Regions from separate parts of the Homo sapiens genome. Here region 1 is linked to region 2. The links come from fine-mapping of genetic effects on gene expression. A gene starts in region 2. The other region holds a variant in brackets. All regions are shown on one strand. Distances are from middle to middle.

The links. PIP is the estimated chance that this variant, and not a neighbour inherited with it, causes the effect. A credible set is the group of variants that fine-mapping cannot tell apart.
Region 1: its variant is the best candidate, but not a certain one, in a credible set for the expression of CERK in lymphoblastoid cells (GTEx, PIP 0.81).

What each region holds. Positions count from the first base shown.
Region 1 is chr22:46,659,395-46,663,769 of GRCh38, forward strand. It overlaps GRAMD4 (GRAM domain containing 4), which reads left to right. Exons shown (of 19, transcript NM_015124.5): 5 at 1,987-2,048; 6 at 3,646-3,778. Among named protein-coding and RNA genes, the nearest start is that of GRAMD4, 41 kb to the left of the region's middle. RefSeq lists an enhancer at 2,464-3,047. The variant C/T (reference allele first, on the strand shown) is at 1,900.
Region 2 is chr22:46,736,396-46,740,770 of GRCh38, forward strand. It overlaps CERK (ceramide kinase), which reads right to left and starts at 1,857. Exons shown (of 13, transcript NM_022766.6): 1 at 1,612-1,857. The coding sequence starts at 1,753. RefSeq lists enhancers at 1-242, 930-1,099, 2,338-2,996, 2,370-2,699 and a silencer at 1,250-2,209.

The DNA of each region.
Region 1 (4,375 bases), 77 kb before region 2:
ACCTCAGCCTCCCACCACCATTGGCCACACCTTTGTCTGTGGCCCCCATGACCTGCATGGATGGCTGTCACCAGTTAGGGAGGCACACGGCATCTCTGGGACACCCCAGCTGAGCACTGCCTGCTATGAGCGCTCCGGGGGCCGTGTGTCATTGTCAGGACTCCAAGTGTCGCTGCTTAGCTGGCCCTGAGGAAGCGGCTCCCTTCAGCACCCTCAGGTTTAGTGTGTGGGAAGACGGGGGATCCGCTGGGCTGACTCCCACTTCTTCCTTGCCCGCCTCCTGCAGGTCAGCATGACCTTGTGGAGTGCCCTGGGGGGCTCATGTGGGGGCTCATGTGGGGGCATCCAGCTGGTGTGGGGGAGGGAGAGGCCTCACTTTCCTATTCCGCCCTGGCAGAACCTCCCAGACCAGAAATGGGTGCATGGGCCTCGGCAGGCGCTTTACCTGATGCTGAACCTTCTGGGAAAATCCACAGAAGCTCAAAGCTTAAATTACATTTAATTATGTAGAGTTGCAACAGAGACCTGACCTGCCACGCTGGGAGATCCCAGGGACAGGTGCGGTCCCCAGGCATTTGGCCACAGTGCCATCCCCGCCACGGGACGCTGCTTCTCCCCCGGTGGCTAAGGTGGCCTGAGGCTGTCCCCGTGGCCCTGCTCCCTGTGTTCTGTTTCCCATCCTCTCACTCCCGCCAGCCCCACTCCAGGATCTGGTCCTCATCTTTTACCAAAGCCCCTTGGTGGCAGGTGTGCCCAGCCCGGGTCAGCTGTAAGAACGCAGGGAGCCCCATCTCGCACAGTCTCTGCCTTGGGAATGGGTGGGGAATGGGCAGTGAAGGAACATCCAGGCTGTGACCCAGGAAGTGGAAGCTGAAGGTCCTGGGAGCATTAAGGGCTCTCCCCTGCTTTACATGGGGGCGGCGCTTAGGAACCTTCTGGAAGCCTGAAGGAGGAGGGGTGAAGGAAGAGCAGTCCCAGGCAGAGTGACCTCCTCTTTCCTTGTCGTCCTGGTGCAGATCTGGGGTGGGTCTGGGTGGCTGTGGTCTGTCCAGGGTGGGTAGGTGTGTGAGGGCACACACAAACATGCAGACACATGTGCGCACACACTGCACACACACATACCACACACTCTGAAGCTGCAGGATTAAAGCACAGCAGTTCTGTTTATGCAAACCTCTATTTTGGTTTTTAAGAAAATTCTCAGAAAGTCACCTTGGTTTAAGGCTACTTGTCAGTAGGCAGAGATTCTCTCCATTGTGGATCCAAAGTCCCCTGAAAACCTCACTGTCTGCTTCCTGCCCGCTGCTTACCTGGCCGTGCCCTGTGTGCCCTGTGCTCCGCCCTCTGTTCTCTTCTCAGGGTTTACTCCTCCCCCAGCTTCCTCCCTCCCCACTCCCGCTTCCCAAGAGTTAGGAAGGTTAGGGGCGACCACACAGCACTTGGCCCGGTTCTGTGCTGCACCTGCTCACAGGCCTTGGCTGGAGGGGCTGGGTGTGGGACGGAAGCAGACCCTAGTGGCCGTCTAGTGCCCCTGCCCAGTCCAGGCAGGTCGCTGGAGTAGGCTGAGCTGGGAGCTGGGTACAGGCTGCTGACAGGTGGCACCCAGCCTGTGGCCTGGCTTGGTGCCTGATAAACACATGTGTGTTGATCAGTATCTTTTCATTAGCAGACGGGTTGGTGATATGAGAGTATTCTGAGTTTAATGATGTTGAAAGAAGCAAGTGTGCTAAAATGAATAGGAAAGGAAAGAGTGGTGAAAGATGCTGGTTGTTTAAAAACAAAACGTGTGCCTGTTAGGAAGGCAGCTCTGTGCTTGCCTGGATACGCTCGGAACCAGCATTTCAGCAGTGGAGACTCTGGAGAGAGCCCTGCTGTCCCTGACCTCTCCTGTGCAGTACA[C/T]GGTCGCGAGAGCCCTCGGGGGTGCCTGACTGGGCATGGAGTTTGGAACTAACAGACCTCTTGTCTCTTCTCTCCCTGCTTTTTAAGAACCGAGGAGCAGATGGCTCAGCAGCCCCCAAAAGGGCAGGCCCAGGCCAGCAATGGAGCAGGTACACCCTGGTGGGCGGGTGGACAGGCAGGCGGGCGGGTGGGTGGCTGCGCGTCACCTGCTGGTTCTGTAGGCCCAGGTTAACAATGGAGCAGATACCCCCTCCCCCAGCAGGTGGGCAGGCGGCAGGTGCTGGTTCTGTGCCCAGGCACCTGCTGGCATCCGGGAATCTCCTCCCGTCAGAACTGGGTTAGTGTCTCTGATGCGAAGTGGTGAGTCATCATAGTCGTCATCACAAATTTCCAGTCACTCAACTAAAGCGTGATTGTGTGTTCTTTGGGGAATACACACGTACTCTGTTTCAGCCTTGCCCCACGGAACAGTGATGTGAGAGCCACGCTGGTCACTGCCGCTGCCCTGGTGCCTCCCCGAAGGGGACCAAGTGGGCAGTGGGGCTATGGTTGGCTGTGAGTGGGGAGTTGGGGGTTCATGTGCCCTTTTATCTCTCTCCTCGTCCTCCATCCCTGAGTGCCTGTTCTTTATCTTGCCCCACGCCCTGCAGGCAGCCGGCATAGTTCCCTGTACCTGGGGGTCAGCAAACTCCAGCCCCCGCCTGGCTTCACAGATTTAAATGGTTTCATTTCATGACATGAGAACGTAATATAAACCTGAAATTTCAGTCCATAAATAAAGTCCATGGGAACACAGCCGGGCCGGTTCACTTACGGCTGGGACGAGTGTGCCGATCTCACCTGGACCCTCCCCTTAAAAACTCTGCCAGGCTGCCTTGGGGGCGGGAAGAAGCCGCAGGAGCCTGCCCTGGCCCCATCCTCCCTGCCCGGGTGGCCTTGGGGTACACAGACCTCAGCCCCCTTGGCCTGTGGCTCTTGAGCCTCTGCCCTGAGCCTGCAGCCCCCTGGGTATGGTGACCACAGGCCCTCTGGTCCCAGGGCCCAAAACTTTGGCGAGGCAGCACCCGCTGCAGGCGGCTCCTCACTGGCCTTCTGAAGGGAGGGACTGGCTTGCACCCCTGAGCCCCCCTTCCGAGGGATTCTTCCGGTTTCCCGCCGTGGAGGCTGCTTTCCAGAGGTGTTCGCTTTTGGTAAACATTGCTGGTCATCAGCACGACAACACCGTGCGCTCACCCTGGGCTGGCTGCGCTCGCCAGGCACCCCCAGCCCAGGACACAGCCTCCCGCTGCGCCATCCATTGGCTGATGCTCAGGATATGCAGGGCTGGGGCAGTGACCTCTCCATCTGCTTTCTGACAACCCGGAGGTAGAAAGGGGGTTTGATGCAGACGTCTGAGGTGGGCCGAGCAGCCTGGATGGACAGGCTGCCCGCTGACGAGAGCCCAGGGCGGGCAGAGAGCTGGGGACAGGGATGAAAAGCAGAGAGACCCGGCACTGAGGTCGTCATGGCTGGGGCAGCTCTGCTGTGTGCCGGTTGGTTTGCACTTGGTGTCTTCAGAGGACTGAGCCCTTCAAAGTCCCTTGTACAGGGACCCTTCATTTCCCTGACCTACCCCCGAGCATTCCTTGTGCCTCTGCTGGCCGCGCCCTTGCAGTGAGGCCCCTCCCTGCCCTGAGATCCCGGAGCCGACCCCAGAACAGGCAGTGCAGCCCTGCCGTGCCCTCACCGGGTCCCTGCCCCCTGCAGAGCGCCGGAGCCAGGGGCTGTCCTCGCGCCTGCAGAAGTGGTTCTACGAGCGGTTTGGGGAGTACGTGGAGGACTTCCGGTTCCAGCCCGAGGAGAACACTGTGGAGACAGAGGAACCCCTGAGCGCCCGCAGGTAGGGGTTCGCCGAGCTGGGGCTGCCTGTGCGTTAGGGGCCCCGGTCCCTGGGCTGAGGCTGCAGCGGGTGGGCCATCCTTTATCACCGTGGGCCAAAGCTGTCTGTGAGGCTGCCGAGAGCTCCTGGAGGCTCCGCTGTGTCTGGTCTTCTGGGGGCCGTGCCTGGCAGGGGCTTGCGAGGCCCGCTTAGGTGCAGCAGAGCTGCATGCGCGCACTGCTCTCAGCTGTGGCTTGTGACAGTTGTGTGGGGACTCATGGGGCTCAGCCCACTGCCTGGGGCCTTCCTTGGCTCTTGAGTCCCATCAGTAAACCTTGGTTCCCCTGCCAGGTGCTGCCATAGGCCCTGGGGGTCCCGAGGGAGCTAGGTCAGCAAAGGCCCTGCCCTTGAGGACTTCTGTTCTGGGGACACAGGCAGGAGATGAGGGGACGATTTCATTGGCGAGTCGCCCCTGCCTTCCTAACTTGGGGAGTGGCACTGAGGGCCATCCCGGCGCACCCTGCTGTGCTGAGCCGCCGTGCATGGCCATTCTGTGCACTCAAGGGGTCCCAGGCTGTTGAGACGTCCTCCCTGGCCCCTGCAGAGCCAACGGAACCG
Region 2 (4,375 bases):
TAATTGGGCCAGTCACTTCCAGCCCCTGCAGATCGGCCCCTGCATCCCTAGGACGGGAGCAGCTGCCTCTCAGGAACCCATCCGGTTTGAAGCCCAGTGGCCCGCACTTAGGAAGTGCTTGGGGGAGGCAGTCATCTTCCTGAAGCCTAGGGATTTACAACAAAGTACAAACCCTTCGGGCCCAGGTCAGGCACCTGTTCTCCTTGTGTGTGGGCCCTGGTGGGTGATATTTGGGGTGTGACATTTCTACCAAAGGGGACATGAGAAATACCTTAGGAAAGTCAAGTCTCAGATGCCCAGCCACAGATAGGTGACCCCAGGGCTGGAAACCAAGTGTTGGTCATGGGTCTGAGACCACCCCTCGACCTTGGCCCCACCTAACGTTCAACTCTGTCCCCACCAGAACCCAACCCACAGATCCTCACCACTCAGCACCAGAAAGCGCCCAGAAGAACTCCTGACCTCGACTGCCCACAGGGTCTAAAGGTGTCATCCCAGGCTCCGAATATCCACCAGAGAATCTTGGCCTCCGCCACACCCACCCCATTCCAGCTCCGCACATCCAGCATGAATCCTGGCCTCTGCCACACCCACCCCAATAATTAAAAAGAAAAAAGGCTGGGTGCGGTTGCTCACACCTGTAATCCCAGCACTTTGAGAGGCTGAGGTGGGCAGATCACCTGAGGTCAGGAATTCAAGACCAGCCTGGCCAACATGGTGAAACCCTGTCTCTACTAAAATACAAAAATTAGCCGGGCGTAGTAGCGGGCTCCTGTAATCCCAGCTACTCCGAGGCTGAGGCAGGGAGAATTGCTTGAACCCAGGAGGCGGAGGTGCAGTGAGCCAAGATCGTGGCATTGAACTCCAGCCTGGGCAACAGAGCAACACTCCGACTCAAAAAAAAAAAAAAACAAAAAACAAACAAAAAACAACAAAAAACAAAAACAAACCCTCTGTCCTCCTGCAGGGCTCTCTCCAGGGTGGGCTATGCGTCCTCCATGTTTACCAAAGTCACTCTTCTCCTCATCCGGAGGGCCTCTGCGGGGCAAGTAGCCAACCCGTGGCACGGAAACCAATTCCCCCATCCCGAGCAGGGAGCACACCCCACAGAAAGTCAGGGGCCCCTTCTTTAACTTCTTAACAGGAAGTCCTCACCCTGCAAGGGCGCCTCTCAGGTTTCGGATCCCTGCTAAAGAAAAGCATCTGTTCTTGGAGTAAACTGCAATGCGCGCGGTGGGGAGCGCCTGGCACCCCCCCTCGGGATCCATCCACAGTCCGTCTTGTCCAGAGGTGCCCTGCGGACAGACCGCACCGGGGGCCACGACCCCGCGCCCCGGGTCCCACCTCCCCGCGGGGATGGGGCGCCGGCCTCCCCTCCACTGCGCGGCGCTTTGTCCTCGGGTTCCCGGAGCAGACGGCGGCGCACAGCCCGGCCCCTGGCCCCGGCCTCCCTCCCGCCTGCCCCGACCCCTCCCTGGCGCCTGCGCTCCCAGGGCCCCCGGCCTTACCACAGCCGCTCGCTCCCTGCACCCGGTCCCCCCAGCCGGGTCCCCCAAGCCGCCCCCGCTCCCTGGCCAGGTCCGGCCGAACCCGGGCGGCGGCGACACTCACCCGCGCCGGGGGCGCCGGCTCCGGGCCCCGGGCTCCGCCACCAGCGCAGCAGAGCCCGCGCGGGCTCCAGGCTCACGGCGCAGCGCTGCTGCTTCACCCACAGCACGGATTGCAGCGGCTCCGCCGCCCCCGTCGCCCCCATCTCCGCCGCCGGGCTCGTCCGCCAGGCTGGGGGCGCGCGGACGCCGAGGGGCGCCGGACCGTTAGCGGCCCCTGCAGTGGCCCGGGCGGCGGGCGGCGGGCGGCGGGAGGCGGCGCTGCGTCACCCCGTACGCGGGCGGCGGGGACCGCGGAGGGGACGGGCGGGGCGGGGGCGAGGAGGAGGCGTGGGTAGAGGAGGGGCCGGGAGCCAGGGAGAGACGGGGGGACCCGAGAAGGGGAGAAGAGGGAGGAGGAAGGGGCCGGGATGGGGCTGGCCGAGGCCAGGGCGCTGGGGCCGGGAGGCGGCTGCCTTTCTCTCCTCTCTTCTCCGGCGGGTGCCGGGTGCTGAATCTGGCGCTCCCGCGGCCGGCCGGGACTCAGTGGCGCCTTCCGCGCGGGCCTCGGTTCAGGCGGGGTCCGGGCGGCGTGGAAACGCAGTCCTGGCGATCGGGCGCGGCGGGGGGCGGGCCTGGATGGGGGCGCCACGGGCGACGTGACCTTGGGCGGCGGGTGCCCTCTACGATCCTGGCGTCCTGTCGGCCTGGGAGGGGGCCTGCAGCTGGGCCCCGACAGGCAGGTAAGGCTTTCAGGAGGCGGAGGTCTTTTTAGGGGGCGGGGGCGCTGGCCCTTTGAACTGCTCTGGGGCCTGAAGCCACAGAGCAGACAGCTGAGCAGCCGCCCCCGAGCTGGCCCTAGGAACCGGAGCCTGGGCCCCAGACTTGGAGAGACACGGCCCCTGTGGCCCCAATTCACCGCCTCCCCAGGAAGGCCTCCTTGACCCCACAGCTGAAGGAATCACCAGCCTGCAGGGACTCCAGCCCTGCCTTCAGAGCACGCCGTGCGCCTTCATGCAAGCTCCAGTCTCTGCGTCCGCAGTGCTTAACACAGCCCCATAGGAAGCAGCCACAACCTGGTTCGGAGGGCACATCCCTCCCTGATTTATCAGTGAAGACTGTGCTCACAGAGGTTAAGTCACTTGCCCAAGAGCACAGGGCTCCAGTGTGGCAGAGCCTAGGCTCACACTGACACTGCCTGGATGTGACACTGAGGTCTGAGGCCTGCCCCTCCCCTCGGCTCCCCTACCCAGCCCTGCTGCTGCAGGCAGAGGTGAGGTGGGCTAGGTCCACGTGGCCTTGCTGCTGTGCCTGGCACCAGGTGGCAGCATATACAGGTCTTACCCTGCCAGCTCCTTGTGACTGTCTTGTCTATAGGGCGGGAACCAGCCATGAATCATTCCTCCCTGGGAGCCCAGCCCCTGTTCAGGCCATGCAGTGAAGGCCCCAGGACAGTCCTGCAGCCACCGTGGGCCCAGTCAGAGTCCTAGCAGGCAGTACCTGATCGTGGCACACAGTGGGGTGTGCAGCAGCGAGGCCTGCCCAGCCTCCTCCCTCCCTCAGCTGCCGCTCTGAGGCCTGGGAAATGTGGATCTGAAACTTACTTGGAAAGAAAAGCTCATGCCAGTGGCAGGAGGGTGCCGCTGCATGCGAAGAGGGTTGGCAGGCAAGGGTGGCATGGGCAGGGGCCCGAGAGCACCAGCGTCCCTACTGGGGACCCCTTCCCTGGGCCTCCCTGTGCTTAGGCTCCCCGTGCCCCTCCCGGCGTATTCACGTTGCTGTCCCCCGGCTGCACGCCTTGGCTTAAAATCCTGCAGCCAGAGGTGGGGGCCCAGAGACGACTCAGAAGTGCTTAGGCCCCGAAGGAGCTCCGTTGGGGGAGACAGCAACATCAGTTACAAAACACACAGGAGATTCAATGAGGCTGTTAGGGTGGGCCCTCATCCAGCGCGTCCTTACAAGAAGAGGAAATGTTGACCGGGCTCTGTGGCTCACACCTGTAATCCCAGCACTTTGGGAGGCTGAAGCGGGTGGATCACCTGAAGTCAGGCATTGGAGACCATCCTGGTCAACATGGTGAAACCCTGTCTCTACTAAAAATACAAAAATTAGCTGGGTGCAGTGGTGCGCTCCTGAATCCCAGCTACTCCGGAAGCTGAGGCAGGAGAATTGCTTGAACCCAGGTGAGCTGAGATTGCGCCATTGCACTCCAGCCTGGGTGACGAGAGCGAAACTCCATCTCAAAAAAAAAAGAAGAGGAAACGTGAACACACACAGACCCCCGAGGCGTGTGTACACAGGGGTGGCCATGGGAAGGGGCAACAAAAGAGAGTGACCTCCAGGAGGCCAACCCTGTGGGCTTGAACCTTGACCTCAGACTTCCAGCCTCTGCCAACTGTTCATGGGAGACGACAGATTGCTGTTGTTGAAGCCATCCAGTCCGTGATATTTTGTTATGGCAGCCTGAGCAGACCCAGGGGACCTGTAGTCCTAGGATGGGCTGGGGAGGGGCCTGGCCACTGCAGGGCCCCATGCTCATGCTCAGGGAGACAGGGTGATGTCACGAAGCCCAGGTTTCCAGAAGATGCACATCCTGCAGTTGAGTTGCATGGGAGAGGGGTTGGGTGGGGGTCAGGCCCTGTGTGGGGCCAGGGCCATGACTCTGGGCACAGCACTGGAGGGATGGGAGGAAAGAGCAGCTCCACCCCAGAGCAGCCGTCAGGTCCCTGCTGTGTGTCAGACCCAGGGGGCCCTTCAGGAGCTGGCTGCGAAGGACACAGGAGCTTTGA